Linked DNA regions of Homo sapiens: region 2 is reported to be linked to region 1. Evidence: microRNA targets listed by miRTarBase, many of them from high-throughput screens and not tested one by one. Region 1 holds a microRNA gene; the other region holds the end of a gene's coding sequence.

Region 1 (4,308 bases):
AGGATTTCAACAGGGCTGCTAAGTTTCTCCAATTGCCTTTCCAATGATCAGCCAAACATCGTATTGGTCAGTACATATATGATTTTAAAATGTAGAATTAGAGAGAGCAAAATAGAGAGAGAGAAAGAAAGCTAACTATAAGAGATATTTAGATAATGCATGTTTTGCAGTGAGTTTGACATTATAATTGAATGACTTCAGACATTACAATGGCATCTACTAAAATGTTTTCCACAGGCTGAGATTGCTGCCTTGCCCTTGGTCTACCCCCAAGTTTCTCAACCATCCCACTGTCAGAGGCGTTTGAACCAGAGCAACTCCACTATCTTGAATAGGGGCTGGGGAAAGTAAGGCTGAGATCTGCTGGGCTGCATTCCCAGAAGGTTAGGCATTCTTAGTCACAGGATGAGATAGGAGGACGGCAGAAGATACAAGTCATAAAGACCTTGCTGACAAAACTGGTTGCAGTAAACAAGCCGGCCAAAACTCACCAAAACCAAGATGGCAACAAAAGTGACCTCTGGTCATCCTCACTGCTCATTATATGCTAATTATAATGTATTAGCATGCTAAAAGACACTCCCGCCAGCGCCATGACAGTTTACAAATGCCATGGCAACATCCAGAAGTTACACTACATGGTCTGAGAAAGGGAGGAACCCTCAGCTCCAGGAACAGCCCACCCCTTTCCTGGAAATCTCATGAATGGTCCACCCCTTGTTTGGCATATAATGAAGGAGTAATAATAAGTATCCTCGGTGGAGCAGCTCAGTGGAGTAACCATTCTTTTTTTTTTTTTTTTTAACTTTCTTAATCAACTTGCTTTCACTTTACTCTATGGACTCACCTCAAATTCTTTTTTGTGCGAGATCCAAGAACCCTCTCTTGGGGTCTGGATAGAGACCCCTTTCTGGTAACACCACTATTGACATTTGGAAGGAGATATTTCTTATGATGGGAAGCTGGCATGTGCCCTGTAGTATCGCTGGGCCTCTGCCTGCTAGATGCCAGGAACAACCTCCCAGCGAGGACAAATAAAAAACGTGTCCAGATATTGCTAAACATCCCTAGAGGACCCAGTTGCCTCTGATTTCCCTTGAGTAGCTAAGCATAGCCAGAACTTACATTTGTATAAATGAATGAAAGAAAGAATAAGTCATTTTCCTAACAATGGTTACTTTACATTTGAAACACTAGAGCCCTTTCCCCACTTCTCTTTATGAACACAGAGATCGCCTGGAAAAAGTCTATGCACTTAACCCTTCTACTAGGTGGCTTTGGGTATAGAAGAAAAAAGCCCCACACCCCGGAGCAATCAACATTTAGGAAAGTGAAATCACAGGAGAAAGAGGGTGTCATACAAGTCGCTACTAATTTCCTTGACAAACGCTGTTTTGAGGAGCACTGTTAACTCTCTGAAATCTCTGTTTTCTCCCTCCTGAAAGATTTTTAGAGAGGATTCCTTTCAAAATTGGGTTCCGGGACTCCGTGTTTCCAGTGGAATGCTGTCACCATGAGACCCCGTGACGCACTAGCCCAGGAATGCCGGCAATAGCCAAGCAGAGCCCTGTGCCTGTTCTCTTCCTGGCACAGAGGCACACAAAACCCAAGCAGGCCCACCCAAGTCAGATCCTGGGCTGTGGGAAAGCCTTAGTGAATGAGCTCATTGAAGTGGAGAGATGAAAATGAGGGAGCTCTGAAACTGGCAGGGCCTGCAGAGGATTCCTAGGGGCAATTCCTCTGCCCAGAAAACAAGGGAAGGGGCCTAAAGCCCAAACAAGGACCCTCCTGATTAGTAGGGAGACAGAAAGCTCCACTCTCTTCCCCTCGCCCCCGCCCCCCACCCCATAAAACAAAGCTATTCGGGATGCTTCAATTGCCAAGTAGTGCAACAAATCACTTTGCCAAACGTGAACTCTGAAGTCAGGGGTGCTCAGCTCCGGCAAATGCCACTCTATGTCTGCTCATCCATGCAAGACGCTTTGCAATGAGAATGTTTACACTAGCCCTCCGTAAAGCACACAGTTACAACCCATCAGGAGGTATGCAATCAGCAACCAGGATGCACTGTCTGCTCTGGGCTTAGAGGCTATGAGCTAGGGCCATTTGCATAACTGAGTCAATGAAGGTGGTGAAAAGGGTTTTGATTCCTATCTTGCATGTGGAATCTCATTCTCTCTTAGAGATAATGAGTTATGGGGTCATCTATCCTTCCCTTGGAAAATGATCTGAGATGACACTGTAGCTCCCCATCCTCTGGGATCATTGATGTCTGTAAGATTTTATAGGAAGCAATTGAGTTGAGTGTACCCCCTTTCCCCTGTCCTCAATCTAAGTGATAATCTCTGGCACCCCAAAGGGTGTCAGACTGCTTTGTTGATCTTAATTCTGGAATCCCTCTAATCCCTAACTGGGCTTCCCACAATACCAGTGCCCTGGCTTAAAGGAGGTTTGCAGTATGCACACATCTCTGAGGATGGCTCAACTCTCCTGGCCCCCAAGGAATTCCAGGTATTCCATCCCTCTTAATACCTCCTGAAGTCTCTTAACTTCCACCAGACATCTTGTAATTCAGCCTAGATGACCAGATTTGCGTTTGCACCTGTCAATCAGCCTTTCGAGTTCTTGATGGAGAGAATGGAAAACATTCCGTTCTTACCAGACAATTCCTCTCCATGCCACAGAGCTGGCAGAGCACCTAATAGTGATGCTGGGTAAAGTGGCTCTCCAGGGGCACTGGGCTGCTACAGTTTTGAGGACAAGCACCCACACACAGCCAGTGGGCCCCAGGGCAAGCGCACTGTGAGGCGTGAGACTCTACCCAGTAAAGCTGGAGCCTTCAACCCCATAACTCCACCAACATTTGAAAACTCCAATTGCCTCTGGAAGATACTGCCGCTTTCTTCTCCAGGAAAGCATCTTCTGTCTGCTGAGAGTAATATTGTGCGTGGAAAGTCCCTTACCACGTAGTGTTCAGACACTGGAGAAAGGGAGAGGGAGTCATCACTCTGAGAGAATCCACGAGAGATCTGTGAAGCTGATGGAATTTCAGGGCGCAGGGTGTCCTATTCATACAGTAGACCTGAGTGTGTTCTGCTCACATTCCAAAACAACAGGACAGGGGAGGTAAGGACCTATATAGAGAGCCTCTGCCTATATAAATCAGCTTTCCTTCCAAACCATAAAGCCAAGGAACACTAGAGCTGTGAATCCTGGGAAGCATTTTGATTTTGTGTTCTTTCACATCTGTCTCATTAACATACGAAATAAAGTTAGTTAGTTGCAGGTTGTTTCTTTTTAAAAAAAAGAACAAGACAGGTGTAAAATCTATAAACACCTGCTAGATCAGTAACTGCCTCTCAACAAGACCAGCTGGCACATCAACATCTCCAGGAGATCATATCTTAAATGTAAAGTGAACAGTTAATGTTCCTGAACTACCTCTTATTTTAAAGCCATAGGAAACCTTTTGCGGGGGGGTGGGGGGCATCTCCCCAAACTCCTGCGCATGACAAGAGCTCTGCACAAAAGATAGGAAGACCCGGTCACCCTAGGCCACCTCAGCAAGGCGGTTGGTTATGTTCTGCTGAGAAGCCATGGAGCGATTATGTGAAGAAAGGCTGTTCTCTTTACCGGTGCCAAGAAAAAGATTAGATAAGAAAAGGTCACTGGGGCAAGGAGGGGTGAGTGGTTGTTTAATTTTTAACAAACATTGCGCACTCCATAGCATGGCTGTTTCCCCCACTGTATGATGTTTCAAACATTAATTGAATAAAGGGATGGTCTAAGCAAAGGTAAAAGTAGCCCTAAACAGAATGTTCCTTTGTGATCGGCGAGAATAGTTTGGGACTACATAGTCATGGGGCCTCAGAAGGACAGAAAGTCTACAACCAAGTTTGTGTTTTTTAAATGATTAGATCCAATCTGTGGGTATTTGATAAGTTGCCAAAACATTTCTTTAAATGTGTCGGCTGGGTGCGGTGGCTCACGCCTGTAATCCCAGCACTTTGGGAGGCTGAGGTGGGAGGATCACTGGAGCCCAGGAGTTCGAGACCAGCCTATGCAACATAGGGAGACTCCCATCTCTACAAAAAAATAACAAAAAATCGCCAAGCGCCTATAGTCCCAGCTGCTTGGGAGGCTGAGCTGGGAGGGTCGCTTGGACTCAGATCAAGGCTGCAGTGAGTTATGATCGCACCACTGCACTCCAGCTTGGGTGACAGAGCAAGATCTTGTCTCAAAAAAAAAAAAAAAGGACAGATGTTGCAGGGATGAAGAGTAGGATGAGGTGGGTGGAGGACATCTTTG
Region 2 (3,000 bases), not on the chromosome of region 1:
AAAAGACTGCATCTTTATGTTTTTGATTTCTCTAAAAGGTTATTTATGCTTCCTTCTGTTTGGGAAAGATAAATTAAGTCTTGTGCGCTATAGAGGATTTTTTTTCTTTAAGAAAAACGAATGTTGATGCATTTTATAGCCCGAGTGAGGAACAGAGATAGAGGTACTTTGTGCCATTGCTATTAAAGAAAAAGAAAATGTCTCTTTTTTTTTCTGGAAGAATAAGATTTTAATTAAAGCACTTGCACCCTTTTGTATGTGAGCTGGTCTCAAACAAAGTCCTCACCCACAGCAGTTTCAGCAGCTGAACAGTCCCATGGAAGTTCTGACTGGCAGGCATCAACAGGGCTATTAGCACCCAGCATAGTTTGCCCTGAGTACGGAGGATGGATGCTTTGGCTCTAACTACTCACCAATAATTGCTCCTTCCTTACCTTCTTTGTTAATGGTAAACTGCTGGAAATGGAGTAGTACAGGTAACAATTATTTTTAATTGTCTTTCCAGACCAGTTTTTGGTTGTGTGTTCAGTAAATGATAGTCTGTATCACAGCCTTCAAGTCTGGATTATTTTTCTAAATGCATACTCTACCTGTTCAGTTACACTCGTTGTGGAACAACATTAGCTTATATACCAGTAAGTTGTCGAGAATGGATAACCATCTGTCATTATCACTGACCTTCAAAGACTCATCAAGCAGTCCCTGCATAAGGATTGGAGTGGTTTGAAGTTTCTCTTCCAAGCACTAACATGTCCCTATCCCACAGTCATTTTAATTTGGTATGTGACTGTTTCTTTCATTTCTTTCACAGATAATATTATATATACAGTTATATAAATATATTTCATATTAAATGTTATATAACACAAGAGAGAGAAAGTATAAGTAGAAAGAGTGCCTAGCACCCTAAGAAATTTAAATTAAAATGCTAATTATCCATTGGTGAGTGCAGTCTCGAGGATAGGTGAGTAAACTGCTCTGTGTTGAAGTCACACTGCTGACCTGGTTATTGTAATAAATCACCTCTTTGGTTAATTTAATTTAGTTATTTTGTTATTCATTGTACATTTTTGCTCTGGTTTTAGTAATTTAATTATAATTTATATCACTGTTCCAGGGCATAGTCTCATGATGTGTGTGTGTGTGTGTGTGTGTGTGTGTGTATTTTTCAAAGGGTATGTGAACACCCAGTCATGTTTGTTCTGCCTTTCAAATGAATTTTCCTTCCAGTTTCTCCTACCCGTTGCTTGTTGCTAAGCATCAGGAGAGGCAGTAGCAGCCACAAACTGTGACACAGTTCTTCCAACTTAGAGTGATACCAACCAAGTCTCCTGCATGCTCTGAGAGAGTCTGCGCCTGAGCCAGTTTCAAATCATAGCTTTGAGAATAAAGAGTTGGCTCTGTTATGAGGAAATTAAGGTCCCTTGTTAGTACTCTTTAAAAGGAGAGGTCCTCAGTGTGCTTAATAAAAATTATAGAATTTGTCAGAAGTCTAAACTTAGCCAACTCCCCTACAGGTCAGTACATAGCAATTTATATAATTTTTAGGAGAAGCAAATGGTAACCATTTTAACGAGACCCTAAATCATATAAAGTGGTTGGATATTATTATATCTATATGTTTGTGTCTGAATATATTTATTTCTGCTACTCCTCTGCTATAATCCCAACACTGGCTTACAAAAGAGCAATTCAGGCAATGGATATGTCACATCATTTTTTTTTTTTTTTTTTATCACTTGCGGATTGCTTTTTAAATGCTGTGGTATGAATAACTGGGCATTTAATAACCTTGAGAATATTAATTCATTTACTGATGTGCTTATTCATTTATACTCATTCTTACTCCAAAAAGGATCTAAGAAGACTCGCAAAGATAAAAATAATACAAGAAAAACTAAAATTTAAAAAGGAGAGGGAATTAGGAAAAAAGGAATCAAGGGTAGGAAAGTGAGATGAAATTGGCTCTTACAAAAAATGGTGATGCTCTCACACTTCTACGTGAGGTTGGTTACAAAAATGTGTCAGTGCTTTTCAGCACAGACATGTAGAATAAACACAGAAGATGGACATCTGTTCCCAGCACAGAGAGCTTCTAGGGTCATTAGGTTTTTGTTCTCAGAGATATTCTGATTGGTAAAGGATGGGGTGTTTGACTGAGTGTGGAGTTGGCAACAAAAATATTGGCCTCTTTTACTGGAGCGTGTCCCTGAAAAATGGACAGGAGAGCTAATAGACAAACAAAATCCACATGGAAGTGTGGTGGCTGCAAAACGAAGTTCACAGAATTTCAGGCAAAAACATCATATATGTAATTTACCAAACAGTGGAATTAGAAGAATAAAAACCACAAGAGTTGGTGAAGTTGAAGAGGAAACTCCATGTGGAGACACGGCGCCGTACTTCAGACCTCCCGGTCTACTAATACTGATGGTGTGGCTGGAACCTGGGGTGTGTACAGCCCTATCCAGAGGATGCTCCTGTTTCGGCTGATTCCTCTACACCTTGTGTGGGGAAGGTGGGCACCAGCGGCTCCCTAGCCGCAGCAGCCTCAAGTGCCTCCGCAGCCTTTTCAGCTTCCTCATTAAAGTAAAAAAAAGTGTGTTCTTCTTTGAAACCTATTTAAAGTAACAATAAAGTTTACTGTCTAATCCAATGGTGCCAGTTTTTATATACTACATAAGTTGAAGGAGATCATCTTCAGTACTAGTCCAAAGGTGTCACATCACCATCGGAAAGGACTCCAGAACCATTTACAACTGGGCGTATCTTTGGTTATATGTTAATTGTGCCATACAGATGTTCTGTTCGATTTTACTTGCACTCTCATTCAACATTCTGGAACATCTGATGACGCATCATGGACTTTGGGCAGAGGCTTAGCGGAAAGGGTTAAGAGGAAGGTGATAAACTGGGGGAAAGGCCAGTATTAGGCATGATACAAGCCACTGCCAGCTGACTGCTCCCAGGGAAATGATGGCAGGCGAGGACCATTCCAGT

What was found. The annotated mature microRNA hsa-miR-4770 reads UGAGAUGACACUGUAGCU and lies in region 1 at 2,230-2,247, shown strand. An mRNA with a match to its seed (bases 2 to 7 or 8) in the 3' UTR can be bound and repressed. Matches are read on the target gene's strand: a 7mer-m8 pairs with bases 2 to 8, a 7mer-A1 pairs with bases 2 to 7 and ends in A, and an 8mer does both.
Region 2: the mRNA of ENO4 is a reported target of hsa-miR-4770. Seed matches in the 3' UTR shown: 8mer at 1,952-1,959.

Annotation. Positions count from the first base shown.
Region 1 is chrX:6,381,846-6,386,153 of GRCh38, reverse strand. It overlaps MIR4770 (microRNA 4770), which reads left to right and starts at 2,191; the gene lies at 2,191-2,248.
Region 2 is chr10:116,881,133-116,884,132 of GRCh38, reverse strand. It overlaps ENO4 (enolase 4), which reads right to left. Exons shown (of 14, transcript NM_001242699.2): 14 at 1,532-2,618. The coding sequence ends at 2,464. It overlaps SHTN1 (shootin 1), which reads left to right. Exons shown (of 17, transcript NM_001127211.3): 17 at 1-2,656. Among named protein-coding and RNA genes, the nearest start is that of ENO4, 33 kb to the right of the region's middle.